Linked DNA regions of Homo sapiens. The protein of the gene in region 7 purifies or fractionates together with the protein of the main gene of each other region. This does not show direct contact. Each region holds a gene or a part of one and is shown on either strand. Other genes may lie near its edges.

Region 1 (3,501 bases), on a different chromosome or scaffold from region 7:
GGAGAATTGCTTAAACCTGGGAGGCTGATGTTGCAGTGGGCCAAGATCCTGCCATTGCACTCCCACCTGGGTGACAGAGCCAGACTCCATCTTAAAAAAAAAAAAAAAAAAAGATGTTTCCCTTTGGGAGTAAATGGCCATTGATGTTACATTAGAAATATAATAGCTCCAAAGAATGTTCACCTTTGCCACTCTTTGGAGCGTGTGTGATATCTCCAATAGAAATTAAAGAACTGGCTTCACTTTTTTGTTTGTTTGGGTTTTTCTTGAGAAAGGGTTTTGCTCTGTCCCCCAAGCTGGAGTGCAGTGGAACGAACAGGGCTCACTGCAGCCTTGACCTCCTAAGTTCAAGCGATCCTCCTGCCTTAACTTTCTGAGTAACTAGGACTACAGGAATACACCACCTATAGTCGGGTTTTCTAAACACTGCAGGTATGTAAGTATATACTGGTCAATTAAAAAAATTTTTTTTCCTTGTAGAGACCAGGTCTTGACATGCTGCCCTGGTTGGTCTCCAATTCCTGGCCTCAAGCATTCCTCCCACTTTGGCCTCCCAAAGTGCTAGGATTACAGGCATGAGCCACCACGCCTGGCCTGAGAACTTGCTTTATTTTAGCCAAAATTATTTTATCACTTCTTTCCCTTCTCACAGGTTCTAGCTCTTATCTTCTTGTACCCCTTCCCTGCCGCAATATATTATCTTACGCAAAGCAAGTAAACTTTCAGTTTCCTATTCCCATTACTCTATTTAGCAAACCTAGGACCTTCCTTAGGACCCAGCATCCTCACAAGGCAGGGTGGGGTTGTAAATAGCCCCCAGTTTTTGCTGTGTCATAAATTATTTTATTCCTTGTTACATTAGCAAAACAGACATTTCAATGTGAATCCTCCCCGTTGATAAGCTTAAATTAAGAATATAAAGTACAACACTGTAAAACCTTTGCCCTGATGTTAAAAGCCTTTCAGAAGGTTTTTGAAATCCCTATTTCCCACTTGATCTGGGTTCCTCTTCACCCTGTGAGACACTCCAGCTGCATTGAACTGCCAGTGTTCCCAATCAGCTGTGCTCTGTTAAACATCCACATTTTAGAAAAGCATGCTTAATTTTTCACTAAATGATAATTATTTCCCCAGCATTTAATGTATTACTCATTCTCTCCACATCAAGGACCTTGTAAACAAATTCAGAGCATTATCTGTAGGTTCTTTTAAGATCATCTTTAAATAATTTTCAAGGTGGGATGCGGGGAGTGTCAGCAAGGCTTCTCTCATTAAAAAACCTTAAAATCTCCATTTGTCCCTGTCAAAGCCTGAATTGGAAGCAGGGTCAGCATTAGGGTGAGACAAGAGATGCAGGGTTGTGCAAGTGCAGGGTTGTTAAAAAGGAAAAAAATTGAAATTGCTTAAGAAAGTCATTGCTTTTGAGGGGTAATAGCAGGTGTACTTCCCTAAGTACAATAGCAAATCTTTCAAAGAAAATTTCTATCCTATTTTTCCTTGAAAATAACCATATTGAATACAGTTATAGAACTGTATTTTATTTATTTGTATGTGCTACAATTTGGTGCATGCAGCAACCACAGTTCCTTAAATTTTTGGCCATTGTTTTCAGGACTCAAAATAGCTCAGCATTCCATTCTATAAGGCCCATGTTTCTTTCCCATGGTACAGTATGAGTACTTTTTAAAGTAGGTGAACATAAAATAAAAGTTTGCTAGTTGTAGTGCATATGAACAAAATAACCACATGGGTTTTATGGCACATGTTCTAAAAAGATAAAGATATAATGGAGAGATATCTCATTCAAACAGGTTAACATTATAAACAGTGCAAGTGAGGGCCATAGAAGCAAAGTAACATAGTAAAATTAACAAATATAAAAACCTAAGCTGAAAGAGGAGGTATGGAGATTTTTTAAATAGTCCTGAAAGATAATAGAGATTGCTCATAATTTGAAGTAGACATAATTCAGGATTTGAAATAAATCATCTAAAATTTTAAACATGTCATATTGTTTAAATCATTCTCTGTCCTATAGGAATGACGGTAATAACTTGACTATGTACTTTGTAGTGTCCTGAAAATAGTATGCTCAGTTAAGTTTATAAATTGCAAAATAACCATCTCTTTAAAGTGGAACAGCATTCATCAGGGAATTGTTCACTTATGAAGAGGTCATCCAGACCTGGAGACAAGCTACTTTTTTGGTGAATAGAATATATTGCCATTGCTACTATTTATCCTCCTTGTTTTCAGGAATGCTTCACTACTTATTCTCATTATGATAAACTCTATCTCAGGCTTTTAGGTATCATTTAAAACCCACTTGTGTGGGGAGGTTCTATCACTCTCCAAATAACTTTGCAGGGCCCAAGGCTATAAATATGAATATATTTATACAAACCTATTTTGTTATAATAGGGCCTTGGGCCTACTATACAAACCTATTTTGTTTAAGGCTATAAATATGAATGTATTTATATAAACCTGTTTTGTTATAATAGAGCCCAAGGCCCTATTATAACAAAATAGGTATGTTATAAAACTATTATAACAAAATAGGTATGTCATAGAACTATTATAACAAAATAGGTTTGTATAAATATATTACAGGACAATTATTTACCATTATTACAGGAAAATTATTTCTCATCTGTATATCCAATAATTACACAAAATGGTTGTGTTTTGAAGTTGGAGAACAACCACATTCTAAAAAGGCACAGAGCAAAAAAGAAAATAAGCTCATATTTTACTATACGAAAAAGGTAAACAAAGAAGTGGTTGAAAAATCCATGTTCTATTTAAAGTCCTCTCATTCCAGAATTATAGAATATAATTGATTTTATGTGATTATCAAGTATAAGCTCTTGGAAATTTTATGATGTAAAAATAGAGGCAAAGCTGTACTCATTAATAAAATAAAACATTTGATTAGCATATATTGATAAAATAAAATATTCATGATTGTAGTTTATTTTTTGTTGAATTTATTAATAATCTTTATATATATTTATATATGTATGGCTTTGAGCAAAGACAAAAGAAATACTCTAACTCATCCCTGATCATACAGTTGTTGTAAGAATCAGCTATTCTATTATCTTTCCAGCAGCAGAAAGACCAATGAATAATACATTTCTTTCTGTACAGATTAAAACTCCATACATACGGGCTTCACTATGTACAGAGAAAAGAGGTCACTTTTCAACTAGCAATGGACCTTTATATTACAGGAATGTGAGTCATTTTTTTTTCTTAATCTAAGTATATATACATTCATACATATATGTATATAATTTACCCTGTACCTTTTTATTAGTTTAATATATAAACCTTAGTTTTTTTGTCCATTCTATTACAAAGTGAATAAAAATTGTATGGTTGCACTGAAAGACCATGCATTTCAATTTTGCTTATGTTTCCCAATAGTGCTCAAAATAAAAAACCAAAAATTTATATATATAAAAATATTTCACTACCAAATCCATTAATCCTATC
Region 2 (4,535 bases), on a different chromosome or scaffold from region 7:
TAATCAGGTCTGCTCTCAGATGCTGGGACTGCCAACCTTCATAGGAAAGTAACATATGCTTACCTCATGCCAGCAGCTGTACATGACTTCATATATGGACATTGGTGCCAGGTGAGGGCGATATAGCCTGAAGCCTTCAGAAATAGCTTCCACGACTTGCAAATTTGACTTATTTTCAAAAGGCATTTTTCCTTCTGTAAAAACTTCCCACATTAAAACTCCTGCAAACAAAAATGCAGGAAAACAAGGGGTTAGAGAGAAATGATTGCTTGGGAACTGAAAGAACAATTTCAAACTACAAGGCATTATTTTTGTGCTCCAGGCTTTGGGCTATAACCATCCTGAATAACAGCGGTTCTGTCAAGGAAGCAAATCATGTTCACTTTAGTTTTCAAAGAGGCCTGTAACCTGAAAATAATCTAAGTGAAAACAATGCCTTTCCTTGTCCATGGGTCTTGATTGCCTCTCCTATCAGGAGAAAATGCCAGTAGCATTTTCTTTTCTTTTTTTTTTTTTTTGAGACAGGGTCTCGCTCTGTCGCCCGGGCTGGAGTGCAGTGGCATGATCTCAGCTCACTGCAACCTCTGTCTACCGGGCTGGAGTGCAGTGGCATGATCTCAGCTCACTGCAACCTCTGTCTCCCGGGTTCAAGCAATTCTTCTGCTTCAGCCTCCTGAGTTGCTGGGATTATAGGTGCCCACCACCACGCCCAACTAATTTTTCTATTTTTAGTAGAGGCGGGGTTTCACCATGTTGGCCAGGCTGGTCTCGAGCTCTGACCTCAGGTGATTCGACCACCTCAGCCTCCCAAAGTGCTGGAATTACAAACGTAAGCCATCACGCCCGGCCTAGCATTTTCATTTCTAAGCAGCAGTCACGTTCCTGCATCCTGAAATCAATGAACCTTTCTGCCATTCCATAGAAACTGACAGGATTATGTGAGCCTCTGCTGCCTACTTAGCCAAGAGTTTCAGCCAGTAAATGGCATGTGTCCCCTTCTTTCTGCTAAAAGATTAGACTGATGGGCAGAGCCCCAGAATATCTAGCAGGGGCTCTGTACATAAGTAGATGTCCAATAATCATTGATTGATTGATTAGTGAAACTCCTGCAAGAACTCCTAATTTGAGTTCATTTAATTATTCACTTATTCTACAAATATTTACTAGACATTGATGAGAGGCGAGGCCTCTGCTGGGGCCTGGAGATTTTATAAGTGTGAGATCAATCCATGTGCCTAAGGAGCTCACTGTTCAGTGAGGGAGACAAGTAGGTAAAATTCAGGGAGTTCTAATTGTTTGGCAACCTTCGATGAGGTCGTTATATTGCTCTTCATTGGTCTCTAAGATGTGGTCTCACAACCTAATTGCTCTTCAGTAGAGCTTCAAGTGTCACCTGCTGAGACTATCATATGTCCATGGAGAGCTAATGAGATTAATGACACAAGCTTAACTTTATTGTATGTTTTTAAATTTATGTTTTAATTTTTTTGAGGCAGGGTCTTGCTCTGTCATCCAGGCTGGAGTACAGTGGCACGATCCTAGCTTACTATAACCTCAAACTCCTGGGCTCAAGCAATCCTCCTGCCTCAGCCTCCCGAGGAACTGGGACTACAGGTATATGCCACCACACCTGGCTAATTTTTTTTTTTTTTTTGTAAAGACAGAGTCTTGCTAGGTTGCCCAGGCTAGTCTTGAACTCCTGGTCTCAAACAATCCTCCCACTTCAGCCTCCCAAAGTGCTGGAATTGTAGGCCTGAGCCACTGTGCCCAGTTTTAACCTTATTGTAGACAATAAAACTGACACCCTTCTGAGGACCCAGAACCCACAAGCCTCCAGGAAGTTTGGGGTGAAAGAGGATAGATAGATTTTTGCATATTTATTACCATTTTTTGAAAATCAACCCCGAAACTTCATTGGACGTGGGTCTATGGTGTCTCTTTCTCAATGAAGAACATTATCCAATATGAATATCAATTTATAGATCCCAAGGAAGCCTATGTCTAAATTCCACAAACTTTAAAGTTAAGGAAGTAAATGAGATGCCACCATTTTTTAAACTCAGGTTTTAAGTTCAGGTTAACAACTGAACAACTGGAAAATAGTCAACCTGCTTCACAGTTTAGACAATTAAGTTTATTAATTACACTCTAAACAATGTCATAAGATCATTTTTCCTTCAAGCCTCTGCGGAGTGGAAAACTTATCTGAGTTTGTTTTCTAGATCAGTAGACTCTTTGTTATGGTTTTATAGTGAGTGCCCATGGAGGAAGGAAAAGATCCAAAAGGCAGACTTATGTAAGAAGGTATGTGACACCAGTTGCCAAAGACAGTCGGGATGTGGTTAGAACACACAGAAGGAAGCACAATTACAAGAAGACTTTTTAAAAAATGCTATATCAATTAGGAAATCAAAGTTAAAAATAACACATTGCCCATTTTATTAAATCAAGCTCCAGCAAGTGAACATCAGATGCACTCACCAAATGACCAGACATCAGATTTACTGCTGTACTTATTGAAAAGAAAAACTTCAGGAGGGGACCACTTGATTGGGAACTTGGCTCCAAAAGAACTGACATACTCATCATCCAAAACGTACCTAAGTTTATCAGATTCAAAGCATATTGTGTTAATTACCTCCAAGCTCTATTTACTTCAAATCCCTTTAGTTAACTCTAAGTTGCTAAAAGACAAAGTATTTTACCCCAGAAAGGTTGTGGATGCCTTCTTGTTAGTAGAGTGTGAAAGTGTCCCTGATAATGTTTCCTCCCCAAACAAAGTCTCAATTGTATTTGTTTTACGTGGACCTCTGAAAATCATAATGCTGCTTCAGTTCAAAACATGGCTCACTGTTTATGTTAATTATGGTAAATTCTTAACTCTACAAAGAAGCCTGCTAAAGGCTCTAACAACCAAGATTATAAAAAGGAAATAAAAGACCACTCTTCCCAGGGGTGGGGAAAACAAAGACCACTCTTCTTAAAATGGAAATGAATGATTCAAAGTTGGATGTCGAATTTTCTTCCATGTGCATGTTTTTTTGTGGGGCATACAGAAGGGGGGAAAGTAAAAGTATATGAACATAATGCTTCTGATATGACAAATCTCTAATGCACTAGAATGGCCCTATATGGAAAGAAACCAAGAATAACTACCGTCTCCTTAAAAAAATAACAAGTTGAACCCTCTCTCTTTTTTGAGAATTGTACACCGGGATGTCCAAATGTCAGACACTGAGGAGAAGAGACAAAAATAAACTTGTGCTTGTTGCCCCTTAAATATACAATATAGTGTTTTCACAGCATTTATTAATGCTGCCCCTATACTCTCACTTTTTTTTTAAATACACTACCTCCCTCCACCTGTCAGCACTTTATTGAGTCAGAGGTCATTCTACTTAGGTAAAGAATGACTAACAGAAAACAAAGAGAGAAAAGCCACTGTTTATAGATTTTGAATTTTTCAAGTCTAGGCTCTTCAGAGAAGAAAGATTGAGTTATTAACAAAATATCTTGGAAAATGGGCCATGAACAGGAGTGAGATCTCACTACCACCACCCCTATTACCACCACTATCTAGAAAAAGATCCCCTGAGCTTTGGGGGGATCTTTTTCCCCCAAAAAGAGGAATGGGGGAAATAGAAGGGAAAGAAAAGGGGGGTACTAGACATTAGTAGATCAGTGGGTTAGGGTCCTGTATCTTGTACCCTAAAGGGCTGCCCAAGTACTTTAGGAAAGAAGCTCCTACTCCCACATTAGGTTGGTGGGATTTAAAAGTGACACAGAACCAGTGCTCTTTTCCCCAGGTGGAGCCCTTGGAAAGGCAGAAAGATGCCAGTGAACAAATGGCTGTGGATGTGCCTAGGTAAATGAGATCTGAGATCACACCATGGAGTTTTGTAATCATAAAGAACGCCGGCCAGGTGAGACTGCTCACACCTGTAATCACAGCACTTTTGGAGGTGAGGTGGGTGGATATTTGATGTCAGGAGTTCAAGACCAGCCTGGCCAACATGGTGAAACCCCGCCTCTACCAAAAATAAAAAATTAGCTGGGCGTGGTGGCATGTGCCTGTAGTTCCAGCTACTCGGGGGGCTGAGGCAGGAGGATAGCTTGAGCCTGGGAGGTCGAGGCTGCAGTGAGCCGAGAGAGCACCACTGCACTCCAGCCTGGGTGACAGAGTAAGACTCTGTCGAAAAAAAAAATTGCCAGTTCTGAATGAATCTTGCAGAAAAAATTCAGTACGTGTTAGCAGCTACCTGTTTGAATGGCCAGCCAAAGACAAGACCGGAGGATGGTGGCTGCAATGATGCCATGCACACAGATAACAAAAGGACCAGTAAGCCACCTCACTACCAGTACTATAGCCCCACGAGACACAAGAACTTGGACTTTGAAGCTTAGGGAAGCTAGAGAGAAACCCCAAATTCCCTGTGATTATATTTCTAGCACCACCCCAAAAAAGGATGCTCAAAATTTAAACTATATTGAGTTGTAGAAAAATATGGTTAAATTTTTCACACTCTTGAATTTTA
Region 3 (4,535 bases), on a different chromosome or scaffold from region 7:
TTTTGTTTAGTGTTAGATCTTGACAAATGTAAAACTCTGTAGCTTTTTTTTCAACTGTTTACATACCTTATAGATTCTTCTTGTCAGTACATACAAATCAAGCTCGTTCTTCTTAACTACTGTATTATATTTCATAGTGTGGCTATAATAGTATCTTTAAACCATTCCTCTTTTAATAGGCATCTGAGGTGTTTACAATTTTTTGCCACTAAAGTAGCGTTAAAATGAGTGTTACTGGCATATAATTGTGCTTACATAGAAGTGGAATAGTTAGTTCAAAGGGTATATGTATTTTTATTTTATTTTATGTTATTTTATTCATTTATCTATGATACTATGTTCTCAGCCCTCTCCAAGGCACAATCTTATTGGAGGGGAAAATAACACACATACCAAAACAAAAAATTCAGGGCAGGGATAATAATATTTTATATTTTGTAAAACACTCTAGATGCTGTGTGAGCTCAAACCAGGGCTTTGAGAACAAATGAATTAAGAAGCTGGCTGGAGGAGGCAAGATTTCAGTTGTCTCTTATAGTGTGTGTAGGATGAGAGGAGGAGAAAGGAATGCCTCTCTGCGGGAGGAAAGGAGAGTGCAGGCGAGACTGGGGGCAGGTGTGTGCCTGGTGTTTCTAAGGGAGAGAGGAGACCGCCTCTGGAACCATCTCAGGCAGTAGGGTATGTGAGGCACTCAGGCAAGAGGAAAAGTGGGTTTGTGAGGACTTATGAATGGAAATTGATGTTAATGAATGAGCCAGAACCTAAAGGTAGAAAATTAAGAAAAATCAAATGGGAGGTGATTCAGTCTGGCTAGGAGGGCATCTAGAAGGGCATGTTAAAAATATGCTTTTTCAATAAAAATAATACACGTTTATTGGTGGAAATTTATAAAATGCCACGTAAGTATTGGGAAGAAAATTTTGAAGCATTTGTAATTTCATAGTCTACGCCTTCAAAATTGGTACATTTCTAACATTCTTTTTCCTACACACACCTATAATATGCACATACACACACACACACACACACACACACACACAAATTGTGATAAAAGAGCCCATGTGGGCTGAGCGCGGTGGGTCACACCTGTAATCCCAGCACTTTTGAGAGGCCGAGGTGGGCGGATCATGAGGCCAAGAGATGGAGACCATCCTGGCCAACATGGTGAAACCCCGTCTCTACTAAAAATACAAAAATTAGCTGGTCGTGGTGGTGCACGCCTGTAGTCCCAGCTACTTGGGAGGCTGAGGCAGGAGAATCACTTAAATCTGGGAGGCGGAGTTTGCAGTGAGCTGAGATCACATCACTGCACTCCAGCCTAGCAACAAAGTGAGACTCCATCTCAAAAAGAAAAAAAAGAAAAAAAAAAAGCCCACGTGGTTTTGTGTCTTCCTTCTTGTATATACCATAGCACTTAAGACAGATTTTGGAGGAGGGAGAGAGGGGGGCAAGAGTTGAAAAGCTACCTGTTGTGTGCTATGCTCACTACCTGGGTGACAGGTTCAATCATACCGCAAACCTCAGCATCATGCAGTATACCATGTAACAAACCTGCATATGTACCCTCAATCTAAAATATAAGTTGAAAAAGCAACAAATTAATAACAGAAGAAGGTAAGAAGGTGCAAAATATAAGTATGATGAATCAGACATGATGTGACTTACATTTAGTAATATTTATCAGGAATGTGATATTAAGTCAGGGGTATTAGACCAGTAGTTCCCAAACTTACAATACATCAAAATTACTTTGGCTCTTAAAAATCATGTTGTCTACCTTAAATACACACAATTATTTCAAAATTTAGTTTGAAAAAAGACACGTTTTGAAGAAATAAGATATTGACTGACAGACTTAATCTAGGCCTGATGGGCAGGGAGTATAGCAGGATTCTCTATAAGGATAGAGGCTGGGAGAAGAGGAGGGAACGTTGACAGAAAGATGAGGACAGTTGAGTTGTATATGGATTGTATATATACAACTACAATATATGAGGACATCCATATACACACGTAAAAAAATACAATTGCAATGCCAATGTACTCTCTACATAAAAGTGACACCTTGGGAAATAGACTGGAATGGAATTGAGATTGGATGTCAGGCCTCCTATCTTAATTCTATGCAGGAGGGAAGAATTTTTGAGTCATTGCAAAGAGTAAGAGAGTCAAAGCTTAAAGAAGGGAGCTCTACTCAGAAAAGTACCAAAAGAAATCAAGGGTGGCAAAGAGCCAAGCTTAGGGTAACACTCTCTTAAAGGAAAAAGCAATAATACGAGGGAAGAAAGGAAAATTAGTCAACCCAATATTTCTGCAAACAAATTCTTAGCAACTGCTGTGTACTATGTGCTACACTAGGTTCTGGGAATATAAGATGAAGAAAAAGAGCTCAAAGAGTTTCTGTAGCCAAAGTGTATTACAGAGTGTGGTGAATTCAATCATAATGGCAATATGAACAGAGGAGTCTTCTTGTAGGACAGGGTATGCCATCTGGGAAGGCTTCCTGGAGGGGCTGGTGCTGAGCCGGTTCATTCTGGATGAGTTGCCCAGGAAAAGTGAGGAGTTGGGGAATGAACATGAGAGAAGGCAGGGAAGTATTCACAGCTTGAATTCCAGTGGGCTCTGCTAGCACTTAGTGATACTGAGGGGTCAGGTGTGGAGTGCTCAGTCTGGCCAATGTTTGTTTTGCTTTGTTTTGTTTGTTTTTATTAATATTATGGCTGTCCAACGTTCACCCACAAGTTAACACCCATTGATTCTTTTTTTTTTTTTTTTTTTTTTTGAGACGGAGTCTCGCTCTGTCGCCCAGGCCGGACTGCGGACTGCAGTGGCGCAATCTCGGCTCACTGCAAGCTCCGCTTCCCAGGTTCACGCCATTCTCCTGCCTCAGCCTCCCGAGTAGCTGGGACTACAGGCGCCCACCACCGCGCCCGGCTAATTTTTTGTATTTTTAGTAGAGACGGGGTTTCACCTTGTTGGCCAGGATGGTCTCGATCTCCTGACCTCATGATCCACCCGCCTCGGCCTCCCAAAGTTCTGGGATTACAGGCGTGAGCCACTGCGCCCGGCTTAACACCCATTGATTCTTGCTTGAATCAGTTATCAATATATTGGTTGCCAAGTGATAGTTTTCTAACTCTATCATTCCTTCCACATTGATTAGTTTTCCCTTCTTCATTTGTTTAATCAGTATTGCCTCATGCATTCTTATTTCTTTCAATGGGCTATTATCCCTTACTGCTATCATTATTTATTTTAATGCTCAAAATTCCCAGACTTGGCAACAGGAGATCCTTCAAATTGGTTCTTGTATGCTTTGAGTGTCCCATCACTGTTTGAGCACTTCAGTGTGTTGTTCTAGGCTCAGCATCTATTTTTCCTGCCCCAGCCCTGAAGTCAGCTATTTTTCCAAGGAGTTCTGGTTCCTTTTAGTAAAGAAGAGTACTTACAAGCCAATATCTTGGTGCTTACTCCTGCTGGTATGCCATTGCCTCTAGGCCTTCTCAATGGACACAACCCAGAAGTACAGTAAATAGCTATAAAAGGCATTACTGGGATAACTGACAACAGTTAAATGTGGACTGTGGACGTGACGAGTATTAAATCCACATAATGTAAAAGATCCTGATCTTGGTAATCATACTGTGGGTATGCAAGAGATTGTCTTATTCTTAGGAAATAGGCACTGAAGTATTTAGGGGAAAGGAGCACAAGGCTTGCAGCTGTGGGAGTGTGTGTTGGGGAGGATTTAGGGCCATTGGGGGCCCCATAATCCTGATCATTCTGCGCACTCAGGTGAACATGTCTCTCTTCACTGAGCAGACAGACTGAGAATCAGAGCTTTGAAGTCTGACAGTGTACATAATACTTCCACAAAGGCATCCCTGAATACAAGTGAATACCAGTGACCAGGATCTAGTGATCTAGGGGGACAGAGGAGCAGGTGCACTTACCCCCAGTGTTCTGTGGGACAGTCTGGTGTTTCACAAAGGCCACATCTCCCTTCTCAACCAGACACCTGCAGAGGTCCAGAAGTGGGAGAGAAAAAAAAAGGCGGTCAGAGTGACTTATCTGTCATTCAGGGGGCTACCTTATAGATTCAGGACAGCCATCTGAAAACAGCAACTGTAACTTCCATTCTAACAGTAAGCAATGTAAGGAATAAAGAGAACAAAAACAAAACACTCTGAATTGATTGTAGTTTTACAATCTCAGTTCCACATACTAAATCTTAATTTTTTGTACTGTTTCTCTGAGAGATGACATAATTTCCCTGACATCAACAAGGATAGTAGGGAATTGATTTTCAGTGAGGTGATGCCTCCCCCAGCATATGAATGAAAAACTCAGTTCCTTCAGGTTCTCATACAAGGCGAATGTCTAGGCAACATTTGTGAGAGACTGAAACTCCATCACAAATTGCAATTTGTGCTGTCCTTCATTCCTTTGAAAAAGAATTTTAACATTTATGGAGCATTTGCTATGTTGTGGGTTTTTTTGTTTTTGTTTTTGAGAAATGCAGAGAATATGGCAAA
Region 4 (4,535 bases), on a different chromosome or scaffold from region 7:
CACCTTCAAACTTCTTACTTATCAGACACTACTTTTTTTATTCTAGTGACTTGAACATTTGGTACCTTCCCTACCAAGTCATGACTTCCTTGAATGTGGGAATATTTTCACAGGTCAGCATGTTCTTCACAGAGCCAAGCAAGTTATGTTGTCAATATGCATGTGTTGAATCAAAGGAATAACCTAAACATATTCAAGCTCATTTTCTCATGGACTCTTCAGAAAATAGCTGGTCATTTTCAGTAACAAGAGCCTGGAATTCTTGTTAAGGAGTTCCAGGGCTAAGAATCCAGAAACAGTCTCTCATAGGCAGAAGCCTGGTACAGAGATGAAGCATCCCTGGAGTCTAGTTTCTGCTCTACCACTAAGTAGCAATGGGATCTGTGACAAGGCACATAAAATCTCTAAGCTTCAGTTCTCCATGTGCCCAACCAATAAGAGAGTTGTGCAATATAGCTGCAAATATTCATAATGGCTCCGAGATGCTATCATTCTATGATTTATATTTACTATTGCTGAGATCTCTGCTAAAAGTGACAAGTTCAACTGAGGTACTATCTTTGTAAAGTTTTACGAGGCAACTGAGGAAGACTTAGAAGACAACAACCACTGAAGGGATTAGAAATCAGGACTATTGGGGATTTGAGACAGATTAGTATAATATAAAATTGTTTCACTTCAAAACATCATACCCAACTCATAAGGCCCTTCGACTCTTTCTTTCCATGATCAATTAAAAGAAAATATCTACTTCATATATTGCTAATGGCAATGTAAAGTAGCACAGCTGCTTTGGAAAATAGTCTTGCAGTTCCTCAAAATGTGAAACACAGACTAAACATACAACCCAGCATTTCCATCCCAGGTTAAATGAAGACATATGTTCACACAAAAGTTAGTACGTGGATGTTCAAAGCAGCAATATCTATAATAGCCAAAAATGGAAATAACTTAAATGTTCATCAACTAGTAAACCAAAGGATAGATGATAAGGAATATTGTTTGGCAATAAAAAAGAATGATGTACTGATGCATATGCTATGACACGGATGACCCTTAAAAACATTACGCTAAAGAAAAGAAGCTAGTCACAAAATGACATCATATATTGTATGATTGCATTTATATATAAAATGTCCAGAAAAGACAAATCCACAGAGGCAGAAGTAGAGTGGTGATTTCTTGTGGTTGGTGGAGGGATGGTGGAACAAGCTACATAGTTTCTTTCTTGGGTAATTAAGAACATTTTAAAGTTAGATTGTAGTGATGGTTGCACAATTCTGAGAACAAGTTGAATACAAGTTGTGAGAACAAGTGAAAAATGGTTCCTCATTGGGGGTCATGAAAAAGCCTATGAATGGTGGAAGCCATTTACTGTGATGGGAATGGCTAGAAAGAGAAGATTCTGTCTTAGGCTTGAGTTTTGTACATTCTCATTGGACATGAAGCAAAGACGTCAAGTAGTCAGGTGAGTATGTCAAGCACTGATGCAAGCACTGGAGATCAACAGTATATACAACAGCCAAGTTCTGTGCTGATGGATCTTATATCCCTCCATGCAATGATTAGGGCAATTTTAGAATTATCAATCCAAACATGTATTTAAACCTCATGTGATTAGATGAAAGAGCCTAAGGATTGGCTGCAAATGGAGGAGAAAACACTAAGGATTGAGGCCTCCGTTACTCCAACACTGTGTTGAGTCAAGTATTCTGGGTAAGCATGCTACCCTAGATGCTATATGCTTCTATCATTGTATAACACACTACTAAAACAGTAGAGTTGATAGGTATTTATTTTTAAAAAGAGTTTATAATCATTCCTTCATTCTTTATATAGTAATTCTTTTACAAGAAGAAGAAAAGCCTACAGCTGGCTCAGGAAGTCCTTTCAGATACTTTCCCTACCGCCCGCCTCCCTCCCCCAACATTGGGTGTTCCAAGCCCCTCACAAAGACCTTAAACCCTCAAGTAGTGGCTCAGCTAATAAAGGCACACATGGAAAAAAAAAGAAGAGAAGAAGGAGAAAAGCAATATCTATGCCAATGTATTGATTTAGGTTGATAGATCTATACCTGGAGAACCTTTAAGAAATACAGCAATACTTTTCTTTAGAAATAAATCTGTAAAATGGCACTCTATAAATCTCCACTGTTTGCTTGAACTCAGATATGACGACTTTTACTTGTGTAAACTGGAAAATGATAGGATCCGTGCAAAACATTTTGCATAAAGCTATATATAGTATTGTGGGGTAAAAGTGAGAAAGTCAAAATCCCAGTTGGATATACCTAAAGGTAAAATATTATTCACATTTTTCCTTTAAATGCAGATTTTCTAAATTATCATTCAAGAAACACCCTCACCTATCTTCTTCACTCTTCAAGTGTTTCTCTAATTCCTTTCATTAGATCCAAAAAAGAAAAAAAGAGGAGGAGAATAAGAAAAGGAAAGAGACGATGAATGAGAAGAAGAAAGAGAAGGAGAGGAGAAGGAGGAAAAAAAGGAGAAAAAGGAGAAATAGTAAATAAGATGATAATCTTTTTTTCTAATACTCTTCGAAAACCAAATTGCACATGGGAAGTAAATGTACCTCCTGTAGACTGCCGGAACTATTTCAGCAGATATTACTAGGCACACACACATCCCACATACATCAGCTCCCTTCATTGCTATGTATGTATCCCAACTTATACAATGTGCTTACATATCTATATTTTTATCGTCAAACATGCTATTTTATACAAGCTGCTCAGGGATGAGATGGCCAGAACTGCTCTTTTTATATAATCATTACTTTTTTTTTTTACAATATTTTTGCTTAATGTTCTAAGAAATCCTTTTTTTTTATGGTCCACATGTTGCGTAGCATCAAAGGTTATTCAAACAAAGCCAATTCAAACATGGTATTACTGCATAGCTTCAAAAACACATTTCAGGTTACTTATATATAATTTAAATTCTGAAATAGACTACATATGGCTATGATAATAAGCCCATTACTGAAAAAGAGCACTTTAGCAACATGTATAAACCTCTATGAGATTCTACATCTGCACTATGCACATACATTATCTTTACTATATTTATCTCCCCTAATATCATGTGTGCCACTTTCATTTAAGAATAGTTAAAGGGTAAAGATGAGAAAAACATTCTCATTTTAAAACACCTTTTCACAAGTATTATAAAATTATCAGATTGATGTAATATATGGCATATAGATGTAATTTAAAAGTGTTGCCATAGTTCATATTAATTTCCCATAAATGACTGCAAAACCCTATTCTTATTCAAAAATAAAGAAAAGCTGGAAAACAAAGGCTAACCTTAACATACATTCTCCTATATGATCATACAGAAAAGTCTAGATGTGATTAATCTGCATCAATAAGAAAACCATTATTTACATCCCAAATAGAAAAGTTTATCTACATTTCTCAACTAACTTAATATTTGCTCTCTATGGATTGCTACAGGGACACAATACTGAAAAATTATAAATAATATTAGCAGATAGCTTCTATGAGGTGGCAAAACGCTACCATTTTTCATATACTATAAAAATGCACATATAAATAACCCACCAAGCAAATATCAATGCAAATATATGTATCATTTGTCACTGAATAAAATTAATATCTGTGTCTAGCACAAGGATGGTCAGTATATCTTTGAAATGGTACAGGCTTCTGTACATTTGAAATTCATGTGGAGTATAAGCACACACCTCTAAGAAGAATAAGTAAATAGAAATCATAGAATCCTGGAAGAGTAACAAAGCTTAGAGAACCTACAAACCAACCTCTTCACTATATATGTGAACACTGAGTCTCAAAGTGCTGAAACAGCCTAGAGGGCAGTGTTCTCCACATCCCAAATTTTCAACCATCCCCGTGGAGAAACTGTCATTCTGAAGTATCCAAAGGCAATCCAATGTCAAACGTATGATTTACATATTAATTTAGTAAGAGTGTCCAGGGTTTCCTTTGCTTTTGACACAGCAGATGCTAAATACAAAACTAGTTTCACACACACAAAAATTTAATATTGCCTTTTCAGTGTCAACTCCTCAATTTTGGCATTTTTCACTACATTACTATGAGTTCTGCTGCATAATTGTGGCCCAGACACAAACTGCCCCCTTATCCTACAATGTTAAATCAGAACAAAGGTTCTAGGTTGTCTTTGGGGGCAGGAGAAGGGTGGTGTGGGAGAGAAGGAAGGAAAGAAGGGAGAGAGGAATAAAACGGAGAGAAAGAAGGGAGGGAGGAATGAAAGGAGGGAGGGAGGGAAGGCAGACAGAAATGGTGTCTTACTACTGCTGCTCCAGCAAGCTGGTTAATTGCATTTGTTTCATATATCTCCAAACACCCTGGTATATTAATTACATTCTGTAACACCAAGCTCTTCTGATTTCCTGTCACTTCCACTGAGCAATTTAATTGTATTCCTCCTAGCAACACACTGATTTAAAAACGCTTATATAAAAAAACCCTTGGTGATAATTTTGTAGTCTAATGTATAGTTTACACA
Region 5 (4,371 bases), on a different chromosome or scaffold from region 7:
TGTAGTCTTGTAACTCCTTGTACAGTGTCTCACAAAGCCAGGCACTCAGAGAGAATTTGCTGATTTGAGAAAGGAAAACACCTGACAAGTCAAACAGCTTTATTTTTCAAACATTACAAAAGGTATTTTTTTTTTTGACTGCCAATTCTTTCTTCTATGGTATGGGCCAATTCTGGTCTATTTGGGATTATTTAAAGAAAATTGGAAGTACAAGTGTTTCAGATTCCTTCAGGCTTACTATTTAATATTTGGAGTTTAATCTTTTGTTCATTAATAATCTACATAGGGTCTAAGAAACTCCTAGATATTTTTTTCTTAAAAAGAAAAATCAAGGGCCAGGCATGGCGGTTCATGCCTGTAATCCCAGCACTTTGGGAGGCCGAGTTGGGCACATCATTTGAGCCTAGGGGTTCCAGACCAGCCTGAGCAACACAGCAAAACCCTGTCTCTACCAAAAATACAAAAGAATAGCTAGGCATGGTGGTGCGTGCCTGTAGTCCCAGGTACTTGGGAGGCTAAGGTGTGAGGATCACCTGAGCCTGAGCCTGGGAAGTCAAGGCTGCAGTGAGCCGAGATTTTTGTGCCACTGCACTCTAGCCTGGGTGATGAGAGTGAGACCCAAGAAATAAAGAAGAAAGAGAAAAAGAAAAAAGGAAGGAAGGAAGGAAAGAGAGGAGAGGAGAGGAGAGAGGAGGAGAGAAGGAGAGAAGGAGGAAGGGAGGGAAGGAAGGAAGGAAGGAAGGTCAATAATTGGCTTTCATGGTTTGATTTCAGTCCCATACATTAAAGAAAAAAATTTTTTAAAGGTCTTAGCCCACTGGCTGTGGGTCCTGCCCCCAGGTGGTTTTCAGTCGTCTCCCTCATGATTCCAGCGGCCATAGCCATCTCGTTCCTCTGGCTCTTCGATACTCTCATTCTCAAAGGAGGCCTCTTCCTCCTCTTCTTCCCGTATTACCTTCATTAGCTCAAGGAAGCTGGGGGGCGGGCCCTGATCCTTCAGCTCCCTAAGCCGGCACCACAGCATCTGGTTAAGAGTGGCCCCAGCCATGACCTGCTCCAGGCGGACCTGGTCCGCAATACGCCGAGGGATGGCGCGTTTCTCCACCGCTCTCCGGAGCAGGGTTTCTAGCCGTAACACATAGGCTGAGACCTTCTCTCCTTCCTCCTGATAGGTCTTCAGATACCTCACCTGGGCTGTCCTGCGGCTCTCTAGGCTCCCAAACACTTGCTTAAAGGCCTCCAAACACTCTTCTACACTGATGGACGGGTTGTCTGCCTGCACTATGTGCATGAGGTCCAGGGCAGGGCCCCGCAGGCTTTCCGCCAGCCACCTTTTCTTTTCTGCCTCTGTTACTGGCCACTCTTTGACTATCTCCGTGGCCTGTTCCAACCAGACCTCAAAGGACTCTTCCTCTGGGGCTGGGACAGCACTCCCTGAGAATACTCGCAGTTTCCGGTATCTCATGGGTAGCAGGGGCTGAGGCGCATGTGCCATTGCCTGTCCCAACAAATGGGCCAGTAATTCTGGTGAGATGCAGGGCACTGTGGCTGGAGACACGCCCTCCTGCCCCAGGGCTCGAAACATACCCGAGACCGTCTGCCCCTCTTTTTCTAGAAACAGGTTCAATCTTTCAAGAAACTCAGTGTCCTGATTAGGGGTCTTAAAGATCACCTTCCAGACACCCCCCTTTCCCTGGACCTCACTGGGAATGGCCGAGACATCAGTATCTTCCAGAAGCTCTAGTAAGACAGCATTGGCATTCTCCTGCTTCCGGAATATCTTGCCAAGCAGTCTATACCTGCCCAGAGACTTTAAAGTCTCCTGAAGGACCTCCTGAATCTCAGCCTCCTCAAAGTCCGCCGGTATCCCCGTAACCATCAGTGACTTCTGCTCATCCACACTCATTATCCTGCACCAGTCCTCTAACAGTGCCAGCGCCATTGTCCTAAGAATTGACCCACTCTGACTCTACAGGCACCAATTTGTTAGTGGTGCAGCTATGCACTGACTTAATATTGAAAATATCCTGGATGAGCTTCTAACCTTAGAACCCACCAATGAATGGGTCCCAGACTAGGTCACTCAAAGACAGTCACAAAGTTTTCTGGACAAATGACCCTGGCCTACTCAGTGGCAAGAACTCAGGACTTCTTGTCTTTAGGCCTGACCCAGGTGGGCAGGTCGTATCTCAGTTCTAACCACACCTGTGCCCGCAGCTCTGAAGTCCGATTGCCAGTGATTTTCTCAAAGATGCTGGCAGCCACGTGACGCTGACCCTTCTCTGATAGTTGAGGCACCTGGGACAGCTGCTTTCTCCACAGCCTCCTGGTCTCTGATGTTTCGTCTCTCTCCAGTTGATGGGAAAATGCCTTCCACTCTGGGACCCAGAACTCTTGAAGAGAAGCCTCCCAGCAGGGCGGCTTGGACCCCTGGTGAAACAATGTTCAGTTTTACTACACAGCACTCTCTTTCCTTGGAAGCATCCATACTCTAATCTGGAATGGAACTGGGGGCAGATGGCGGTTCTGCTTTACACTGCGCTTGCATTTGTCCCACTCTGTCAGACCCCTTCTTTGCTCACTGTGACTTTTTTTTCTCTTGGGGACTCCAATGAAATCTGGTGTCCCCACCATATGCTCATCAGACCTGTTGATTAATGTCTGAGCCCCAGTTAAGGACAGGATTCAAGGTCTTTGCCATTGAAAGATGAAATCAGGAGATGTGGCTAAATACCTGTTGATGTGTTCCCGAGTGTTCCGCGAGAGGTGAGGAGCTTATTTATTCACCTTTTAGCACAGGAAGACATCACCCACCTCCACACAGTGGTGTGTCTGGCTCTTAGCTCCAGCCAAGCCAAGCTGCTCTGTTACACATAAACAATAAGAACAGGTATTTATGCTTCATTAATATTCAGTAGGAAGACCGTTAATGCACTTATTCAAAAATATGATAATCCTTCACAATACTACTCAATATTAAGTTGCTTTACCTCTTTGATTAACAAAACTAATGAGGAATCACTCAAACGTTTAAAAATAGTTTAATCTAGGTATAACAATTCAGGGAAAAAAATCTCAGGGCCGACTAAGTTAAATCGGGAATTATGAATTAATTCTCTTTTGTTGTGTCTGGAAGGCTTTGCAAACACACATTTGGGCTTTGCTTTTGCTATGAATGGTAAGTGAAATAGTTTGAAGGTTTGTCCCCTCCAAATCTCATGCTGAAATGTGATCCCCAGTGTTGGAGGTGGGGCCTGGTGGGATGTGTTTGGGTCATGAGAGTGGATCCCTTATGAATGGCTTGGTGCCATTCTTGGGGTAATGAGTGGGTTCTTGTTCTATTAGCTTCCTCGAGATCTGATTGTTAAAAACAGACTGCCACCTCCCTCCCCTCACTCTTGCTCCCTTTCTTGCCGCATCTGCTCCCTCTTTGCTTTCTGCTATGACTGGAAGCTTCCTGAGGGGTCACCAGATGCAGATGTCAGCACCATACTTCTTGTACAGCCTGCAGAACTGTGACCCAAATAAACCTCTTTTCTTTATAAATTATCCAGCCTCAGGTATTCCTTTATAGCAACACAAAATAGACTAAGACAATAAGTTACTAACACAACACTCTCCAAGCATTTGTTTCTGTTTCTGTTTTTTGAGACAGGGTCTCACTCTGTTGCCGAGGCTGGAATGCAGTGGTGTAAACACGGCTCACTGTAGTAGCCTTGATCTCTCCTGGGCTCAAGCAATCCTCCCACCTCGACCTCCTGAGTACCTGGGACCACAGGCACATGCCACCATGCCTGGCTAGTTTTTTAAATTTTGTGTAGAGACGCAGTCTCCTTACGTTGTTCAGCCTGGTCTCAAACTCCTGGGCTCAAGCAATCCTCCCGCCACAGCCTCTCACAGTGCTGAATTACACACTTGAATCACCACACCCAGCCTTTCCTAACATTTGAACTTTAACCCATCATTTGAGAAAAAAGAAAAAAGGAGGAAGCACACCTATCAAGGATTTTGTTCTGGAGAACCTGTGAGGATTAGAGAACGTAAAAAAGTTAGAGTTGGCCAGGCGTGGTGACTCATGCCTGTAATCCCAGCACTTTGGGAAGCCAAGGCGGGTAGATCACTGAGGTCAGGAATTCGAAACCAGCCTGGCCAACATGGCCAAACCCCGTCTCTACCAAAAATACAAAAATTATCTGGGTGTGGTGGCACGTGCCTGTAATCCCAGCTACTTGGGAGGCTGAGGCAGGAGAATCGCTTAAACCTGGGAGACGGAAGTTGCAGTGAGCCACGATTGCACCACTGCACTCTAACCTGAGTAACAGAGCAAGACTCTGTCTCAAAAAAAAAAAAAAAAAAAGTTAGAGTTCCTAA
Region 6 (4,965 bases), on a different chromosome or scaffold from region 7:
ACCTGTTGTCCTGTGAGAATACTTACCTAATTTTTAGTCTTGTACATCAATGATAATAATAACAGCTCACAGGAATACGATATTTACTATCTGACTGACTTTTTTTGATAAATATTAACTCATTTCATTTTCCAAAGAAAATAAAGACATAACTATTATCAGTATCCTACATTCTGTGTACCTCCATAAAACCTGTTGTGATAAAGAATTAGATATGCTGTATGTGAAGAAGAGGAGGTTAAAGAACACTGTTTTAAGGAAATGACTCAGTCTTTATCCTACAGAAATTGCATTTTTAATTGAATCTGCCGTGAATTTTCTAATGAATAGGATGATATTTTATATGCCTATATGTATTGACGTACCTCCTGGTAAATGAAAGGTTTACTACCTTCCGGGAACCAGTTACTGTTTAGATTATGCAGTTTGTCCAAAATTGCCTTTATGTCTCCAGGCCACATGTGCTTGGAAGCATCAATTCTGAACCCTGCAACACCAATGTCAATGAGATGGTTCATATATTCGGCAATCTTAGAACGCACATAATCCTTCCCCAGTGCAAGATCGAGAAGACCAGACAGACGACAATCTCTGACCTGTTGAGGTAAGAATGTTATGATTGATTAATAAAACCTCACTTTTCGCCTGAGAATCCATTTGATTATTCATTTATTCCATGATTCCTCAAGAGATATTCTATGGTGACTTCCTTGCATTGGACACTGGGGATGCTCACATTCTACTATAGATGTATCTTGGAAATATTTTCTAATAGAAAATAGAGAACTTAGGAAATAAAGTCGATGAGTTTTTCAATTGGTTGGGAGCTTTTTAAAAGTGGACAAATGTGTATTGATTAAAAATCTTAAATCAATATTTAAAGGTTTTCAAATATGGATTTGAGTTTCTTAAAGTAGTCAAACTTGTTAACCTCTGTCCCTAAGAGATCTAAATTCATATTTACAACGAAGTTCAATTAGCTACATGTCTACAACAAAAGGCATATATCACTCCTTATTCAGATCACTCTCGTAAAAAAATTACCTGAGTAGCATCATTATAGTTCTCGATATCTCCACTTCCAGTTTTACATTTACCATCATTAAAATCCCATCCAGAATATGGGACTGCTGGAAAGTCCCTACTTCCAGGGTTGAAGTAACTTCCACAGGTACTGCTTGTTCCTGCACTCACAGCATTACCACACATATGATTAATTACAGCATCCACATAAATACGAACCTAGAAAACAAAGTTTCTAATTCAGTGTGACTTACAGAGAGGCAGAAATTTAAAGAATTATTGATTAAATTTATAGTGTGCTAATAAAATTCCAAAATATTTCATACCTTATAACTATTTTCCTACAAGATCAAAAATCAACTGTGAAAGGAAAGTAATGTGAACTAAACACCTACATTCATTCCAGACACTTGGCCAAATATATATAGGAATGATAAACTGAGAGAACCGGAAACTACCATAAATAGGAGGAAAGGCAAAAAGCCCATTTTGGGGAGACACAACTCAGATGAGACTGAAAAGGTTACTATTTGGGAAATTTCAGTGGGTCACCAGGAGAAAGCCTGTACTCTCTACTAAGCTTGGAAGACAAATAAGGTAGCTATTCATCTCAAATTCTGCTCCTCATTAAATAGATAAGCTACCTATTCACCACAAAAAAAACCCAAGAATTAGGAATGGAGACACAAGTCATCTAAAAATGAGAGCAAATATTGTAACTGGAATTAAAATTCCTCACCAGAAAATCCTTCCAGGAAATATGGATAGTTATAGCGGTTAAAATTTGATGTTTTGCTTCAGAAGTAAACTCTGCTATAAACTTTAACTTATCTCTTTAGTAGAGAGCACATATACAAATATTTTCAAAAATTGAACATAAGGTGACAGTTACTTTTGAGTTTTAAAGTATGAAGTAAAATTAAAACTGATATGGAAAACTTTCTGCTCAAAAGGAGCAAGAAAGAAGAGACAGAAATCATTTTCCTATCTGTTATTTTTAAAGGAAACTAGAATTCACTTACCCCAACATTGTTGCATCTAGTCACCATGTTTCTAAATTCATCTTCATTTCCAGATCTTGTGCATAATTTATAGCTAACTGGTTGGTATCTTTCCCACCAAGGTCTGAAAGGGTTGTGAATGGCAACATTTTCATTTGGTGGAGAGACCTACAAATTAAACAGTCTTCATAAGTACCAAATTCTGTCTTACTGTATATCATTGAATGTTCTAGAATCTAATCAATAATACAAAAGATTCTTGAATCTTGGTATAGGCAGCTATCTCTTGAAAATATTAACAGCACATCGGAGGGCTCTTGTTGAAGAAAGATTATATCAGAAACAAAATATACAGTTGCAAAGAATACTACATTGTTTTTTCCTCAGAAAATTCTTTTACTTAGAATACTTACCTGTGAAGTAAAATGTTGCCCAAGCTTCACGTAGAAGATCAGAATAGTGTTTACTACAAGCACAGTGAATTCTGCAATTGATACTATGAATCATACCCACCTGAACCCCTCCAAATCCCTTGGGAGCTAAATATCGCTCACATTCAAGAGCAATATCAACCCATCGCCATTCAAACAGATGAACAATAGATGTTCGTCCTTGTTGTGTATTTGAGGAATACTGAGCCCAGCAGAACCCAATGGTGAAAAGCAACCAAAAGAGCTTCATTTTGCTTTGAAGTTGTCAGTGTCCTTTCCAGAAACTATTTATATTCCTGTAAGAAGCACATTTTACAATGTAAATAGTAGCATGAATAAATACTTGAGGGCAAACTGTTTATTCATAATCTGAAAAGGATTATCAATAATAATCCTAACTGGTGAAGAACATCAAAAAGTCTCTCATGGAAATCATCTCAATGACCTCTTAGACATTAATGTTTCTTTTCTTTTCTTTTTTTTTTTTTTTTTGCATATGGTAGCACTTTTATTTTTCCTTACACAATGACATGTTGCTGTGGCCTAATGTTCTCACATAACAGCAGAAAACCAAAATTTGTTGTCAACTCTTAAAAGATCGAGAATTGCATACTAAAAAACTTTACATAAATTAAAAGGATGAATACATTTACCGGTATAAATGCGAACCGCTTCCAACTCAAGGCAAGTAACAGCCCACGGTGCTCTGGTAGATAACGTAAGCTAAGAAAGGAAACTGGGTCCTATGGCTTGGACTTTCCAACCCTGACAGACCGACAAGACGGAAACAACTGGTTCAGGAGCCCTTCCCAGCCTCTAGATAAATCTCAGAACACTCAGCCCTGACACATTAATACCCTGCACGGATCAGAGACTGCTGACCACACAGACTCACCAAGCCAGACTTGTCTTCCACAAGCACGTTTTTAGCCATGAAGTGACCAAGCCACGTGTACTAAACACTGACATCAAAGGTATGTACAGATACCAAGGGGAAGAGTTAACTTGAATGCCAGGCCAAAATCAGCAACAAGTTCTACAATCCAGTGCTGATATTGAGAAGAGAGAAAGACCCTGTCCTCTTGTTTTATATTGTTTTCTATTCAGTAAAAACAACAAGGAAGCAAAATCAAAGGCACAAAACCAGGCCTGGGCCTGGTTGGCCTAAACCCAGTAGTTACAAATCAACTTATGATTTAGAAGCCGATGTTATTCATAGATTCCAGACATTGTATAGAAGAACATTGTGAAACTCCCTTCCATATTCTGTTTCTCCCTGACCACGGGTGCATGTAGTCCTTGTCGCATATCCCTGGCTTGTTCAAATCAATCACGACCCTTTCATGTGACATCTTTAGTGCTGTGTGCCCTTAAAAGGGACAGAAATTGTGCACTTGGGGAGCTCGGATTTTGAGACAGTAGCTATCCGATGCTCCCAGGTGAATAACACCCTTCCTTCTACAACTCGGTGTCTGAGAGTTTTGTCTGCCGCTTGTCCTGCTACATTTCTTGGTTCCCTGACCTGGAAGCAAGATAACTGATGGACGGCCGAGGCAGCTCCTTAGGCAGATTAGGCATGCCTTGTGGAGTAAGGCCGGGGCATCCCTCAGGCTGCCAGGGACTCTGGCCAGCCTGAGGGATGGGATCCAAAGAGCGCTCCCAGGTAGGAAATGGCCCCGGTTGAACGCCTCGCCAGAGCAGTGATCCCCGCGGAGGATTAACACAGTGGCTGAACACCAGGAAGGAACTGGCACTTGGAGTCCAGACATCTGAAACTTAGTAAGACAAGTCTTTTCAACTTGCCCCACTCCACCTGAGCGGAAGCTTGGCCTGATCGCTCATGGTGTGCCTGCACCCATATCAATTTCCATATAGAGATTCCTAGTTACAGCTAGTTTTAGATCCTCTACAGTGGTAAAAGGACAGGCAGCAGCAGTAGTAGTAGCAAAGGGACATTTATTTCAGGAAAGTTCTCGCTCCACCGGCCAAGAGAAGCCAGCACCTAAAGTTCTGTTTGACCCAGAGCTCGAGGACTCAAGGCAGGAGATGGCACCAACAGTGCCCTCAACCCCTTATCCAGTGGGGAGGCCCCCTTCTCCTGAGCCCACAGCCCCTAGACCACCCAGAGTAGACAAGAACAAAAGTGAAACTGCGGGAAAATCCACTTCCCTGGCAGCCCGCTTAACGGCCCAAGACGGGAATTCAAATGCCCTGAGAGAGCAGCGATATACTAGGACAGATGAGGTCAGACATACGGTAGAAAGGCATGCTTTTGTGTATCACCCTTTTACCTCTGCTGAACTACTCAACTGGAAAAATAACACTCCATCTTACACTGAAAAGCCTCAAGCCCTAATTGACTTGCTTCAAAGAATTATCCAGACTCAGAATCCTACTTAGGCTGATTGCCACCAGCTACTCATGTACCTCTTTAAAACACATAAAAGGCAACAGGTGCTGCAGGCAACAGTTAAATGGCTGGAGGAGCACATCCCAGCCAATTATCAAAG
Region 7 (3,642 bases):
ACAAATTGAACTGATTTAAGGTCTCATAGTTATTGACACAAGTCTTCTGCAAATAACTGGTATACTTTACTGCTTATATTTCCATAATTCATTACACTTTTAAAGGGTTTTTATACCTGTGAAGATGAACAACTCTGTAGTCTATTCAACCAGTTTTGCTGCCTTTAAAAGTATTCTAGAACAGGTAAGGTTGTCTCAACTCATTCCAATTCTTCATTTTTGTCAAAATTCTTTCTGATACTTGGCATCAGGCTATACCAAACACTAAATTTTAGAAGCCAGCATTCCTTAAAAACTATATTTCTCTTAGGTAGTAAATTTTTTTTTTTTTAAGAATCCCGTCCAGCAATTTAACAAAGCTCTGCCTTAATCCAGATGTATGACTCACCTCTCTAGGCCTACACAGTATTAATTTTCCTTAAGAATGGCAAAGGTCATCTCATCCTTTATAACGTTTTTTGAGAGGAAAAATTCTATCAGTATCTTTAAAGATGCTTTGGGAAGGGAAAGAACACAGCGTTTTTAAATTTTACATTTCAATAAAATCCGAAGTCTCTTGCTTCATGCCGTTTCACTTGAAGAATTTTTAAGCTTGTTTGTTTTATGGACGGAGTCTCGCTCTGTCACCAGGCTGGAGTGCAGTGGCACAATCTCGGCTCACTCCAACTTCTGCCTCCCAGGTTCAAGCGATTCTCCTGCGTCAGCCTCCTGAGTAGCTGGGACTACAGGCACATGCCACCACGCCCAGCTAATTTTTGTATTTTTAATAGAGACGGGGTTTCACTATATTGGCCAGGATGGTCTCGATCTCTTGACCTCGTGATCCTCCTGCCTCAGCCTCCCAAAGTCCTGGGATTACAGGCATGAGCCATGGTGCCGGCCTTTTAAAGCATTTTAAATGGCATTTAGCCAGAGTTTATAATACTAATCCTAATGGTAACACATATACATTCACCTAAGTTGTGTCACAGGTAACGTGTATGTTAAAATATCTGCACTAAGCCCTAGTACATATGGATATGTAGAAAACAATACACACACACATACATACACACACACACACACACACACACACACCTTTATTTAAAATAAGGGAAAGCACCGTCACTCTTGGGGAAAAAGTCCTCACCCCTTTCCTTAGCCACGCATGATACACGAGAGGCTCTGTCCTTGAATGAATGGTCAACAGAGAATTCTCACATAGTAAGGAGTGTTGATTAATAATTAAATAATGACATCCACAAGTCAAACTTGAGCTGTTTTAATCAGATAATTTTACACATAAATTCCTAGTTAGCCAGATTGATTTGGTTATTCTAAATGGCCAAATAAATCTGCAACACACCACAATTATTTCTCCCACACATGATGAATAGCTAATAATTTTAAAAACCTATTGCCATACAGAACCATACTTTCTTACTATGTTATGCCCTGGGGGTTCGCTTCCACATGCCACATTGCTATCATGCTTTTCAATGAATTATGCATTATGCACGTCAGAAAACTTTAAAGAAACAAGCAAAAAAGTATGAAAAACAATAATTCATGTATTTTATTATAAAAGTGTGCTTTATTGTAAGGAAAATTTAAATATAACCAACAATACTGAAAATAATGTACGTGGCATTTATAGCCTTGGTCAAAGTTCTTTATTAAACAGGCGTTTGCTGTTCCATGAATAGTTAACAATTAGTTTATGCAACAAAATAGATAACTTGAAAAAGTGAGTAAGAATACAGAATGATGAACCAGGAATCTGGAGTTCTTTTGTGTTTTTTCTTGTTTAACAGACATGGCTTTTAAAATAAAATCTGAAATATAAAACAAGTCATCTTCATGTAGAGAGCTCTCTTTTCCTACAAGAAGGTTTTGCAAAAATGTTAAACAGTGTTCTAAAAATGTGGCTGAAGTTATACTTTACATACTTTAACTTCTTATATATACATTATCCAATTAACATTCTAACCACATTTTCATATACAAGTGGGACCATAAACATTCTCTAGTAAGACTACACTAGCACAGAGTAATTTTACCCATGTATATATATTCATTTGAAACCTGTTTCCCAAAATGAAATCACTCATTTAAAAGCAAACAACTGGTTAGAATTAATGTCTCTAGACACTGGGTCATGGGGCCTAGAAATCATGTAAGAGTATATTGCTTTGGTTGAATATAATTAAATTCATCTTATGTGGCAGCATACTGAGCATATCAATGAACAATGAAAATCTAGTACATCTGAGTTCTTTCTGCACTAATTTCAACTATGAGTCTACATTAAAGCAATGGCAAGGCCTAATGGTATATATGGTAAGGTCAGAAATTCATTTTGTCTTTATATAGGGTTATGCTCATAAAAATTTGTTTCTATTCCTCTAGAGGATGTTTTTAAGAATTAAAAAAACCAAACAAACCCATATTGGCTGCTGATCAATGAGATTGTGGGTTGGCAACCATCCTAAGAAAGAACGGAAACCCAAGGGAACAGATGTCTACATAGGACTGTATTATGCAGGCCTAGTGAAGAACAAAGAAATAAACTGTGGGCATGCTGATAAGGATCCCACATTATTTTTGGGATAGGAGAGATTTTTTAGGTGTAAAATCTTAAAGAATACAAAAAATGTCGGATCTTAAGTTTAAATCACTTTTTAAAAAAACAAAACTTTGTGACATTAAATGTCAAGATCAAATTTTTAAAGACATAGAATACAGAGAATTGCAAAATAAAAAAAAGCAGATATATGCTTGATGAGGGAAAAATGCATTAATGATCTCTCATCTAAAACACTGTTTTCCTTATTATCATAATGACTAAATTGCCTGTCCATAAAACCACTGGAATATGTATGTTACTGACATTATGCCAACAAAGTCAAAATGTACTTTATTGCAAAAATATAAAAAGTTTTAAAACTGCATATGATATTTTATACCATTTCACCAATAGGCCAAGGCCAGCACATAACTTATCAAGCTAGAAAACTTTAAAACAAAAATGATTAAAATTTTACTGTGTTTAATGAGTTATAAAAAAAAGTGATGCCATGCTGTGTAGCATGTTTAATTGCCAAGTGCCCTCTTACATGGGGATAGTCACTAATATGATTATCAGTCTGAATAAGTAAAACACATATAGCCTATGATAACATCCTTTAATTATCTTCTTAAACACAGATACTTTCTATATATTACAATCATTTTAATAAACCTTTCAGTCATAATTTTGTGGAGTACAAAGTCATTTTATCAGTATGTTGATTTTTTTATGAACTACTCTTTAGAAAGTGATGTTAAAGCCTATTGACTATTAAATCACTACTGTTTATTGATACGTTGTAAATGTAAAAAAAGGAAAAAACCTGAAATCACAGAAAATGCTTGGCATCTACACAAACACATTCTCAGTGGACTAACCACTACTGTGTAATTTTGTCACTACAGGTCTTGCTCCATACTTTTGCTTCATGCAGTGGGTTCAACAATATCCATGTTCGTTCCAAACAGGGCAACTAACTGTTCTTCATAGGTAGCGATGTTCCTTTTCATAATTTCCATGCAAGGTCCCAGAAGCCTTTCAAATGCTTGCACATCCATTGCTGAGAAAAGAGAAGATTTTTTTTTAAATAACAT

The links.
Region 1: the proteins of PRKAR2B (region 7) and HCN1 purify together in Homo sapiens (co-immunoprecipitation; one large-scale study listed by IntAct). This does not show direct contact.
Region 2: the proteins of PRKAR2B (region 7) and TXK fractionate together in Homo sapiens (co-fractionation; one large-scale study listed by BioGRID). This does not show direct contact.
Region 3: the proteins of PRKAR2B (region 7) and TF purify together in Homo sapiens (affinity purification with mass spectrometry, with the first as the bait; one large-scale study listed by BioGRID). This does not show direct contact.
Region 4: the proteins of PRKAR2B (region 7) and ROBO2 fractionate together in Homo sapiens (co-fractionation; one large-scale study listed by BioGRID). This does not show direct contact.
Region 5: the proteins of PRKAR2B (region 7) and PNMA2 purify together in Homo sapiens (co-immunoprecipitation; one large-scale study listed by IntAct). This does not show direct contact.
Region 6: the proteins of PRKAR2B (region 7) and AMY1C purify together in Homo sapiens (affinity purification with mass spectrometry, with the first as the bait; 3 studies listed by BioGRID). This does not show direct contact.

The regions. Positions count from the first base shown.
Region 1 is NC_000005.10:45,256,280-45,259,780, forward strand, and holds part of HCN1 (potassium/sodium hyperpolarization-activated cyclic nucleotide-gated channel 1), read right to left. Parts: 3' UTR 1-3,501. UniProt on the Homo sapiens protein: Hyperpolarization-activated ion channel that are permeable to sodium and potassium ions. Displays lower selectivity for K(+) over Na(+) ions.
Region 2 is NC_000004.12:48,071,454-48,075,988, forward strand, and holds part of TXK (tyrosine-protein kinase TXK), read right to left. Parts: intron 2,601-4,535; coding exon 2,482-2,600; intron 222-2,481; coding exon 64-221; intron 1-63. UniProt on the Homo sapiens protein: Non-receptor tyrosine kinase that plays a redundant role with ITK in regulation of the adaptive immune response. Regulates the development, function and differentiation of conventional T-cells and nonconventional NKT-cells.
Region 3 is NC_000003.12:133,769,991-133,774,525, reverse strand, and holds part of TF (serotransferrin isoform 1 precursor), read right to left. Parts: intron 4,019-4,535; coding exon 3,954-4,018; intron 1-3,953. UniProt on the Homo sapiens protein: Transferrins are iron binding transport proteins which can bind two Fe(3+) ions in association with the binding of an anion, usually bicarbonate.
Region 4 is NC_000003.12:77,042,439-77,046,973, reverse strand, and holds part of ROBO2 (roundabout homolog 2 isoform 23 precursor), read right to left. Parts: intron 1-4,535. UniProt on the Homo sapiens protein: Receptor for SLIT2, and probably SLIT1, which are thought to act as molecular guidance cue in cellular migration, including axonal navigation at the ventral midline of the neural tube and projection of axons to different regions during neuronal development.
Region 5 is NC_000008.11:26,506,814-26,511,184, forward strand, and holds part of PNMA2 (paraneoplastic antigen Ma2), read right to left. Parts: intron 2,865-4,371; 5' UTR 2,735-2,864; intron 2,431-2,734; 5' UTR 1,943-2,430; coding exon 848-1,942; 3' UTR 1-847.
Region 6 is NC_000001.11:103,748,210-103,753,174, reverse strand, and holds the start of AMY1C (alpha-amylase 1C precursor), read right to left. Parts: upstream 3,278-4,965; 5' UTR 3,109-3,277; intron 2,752-3,108; 5' UTR 2,706-2,751; coding exon 2,538-2,705; intron 2,193-2,537; coding exon 2,046-2,192; intron 1,243-2,045; coding exon 1,045-1,242; intron 597-1,044; coding exon 366-596; intron 1-365. UniProt on the Homo sapiens protein: Calcium-binding enzyme that initiates starch digestion in the oral cavity.
Region 7 is NC_000007.14:107,159,415-107,163,056, reverse strand, and holds the end of PRKAR2B (cAMP-dependent protein kinase type II-beta regulatory subunit), read right to left. Parts: intron 3,609-3,642; coding exon 3,475-3,608; 3' UTR 1,246-3,474; downstream 1-1,245. UniProt on the Homo sapiens protein: Regulatory subunit of the cAMP-dependent protein kinases involved in cAMP signaling in cells. Type II regulatory chains mediate membrane association by binding to anchoring proteins, including the MAP2 kinase.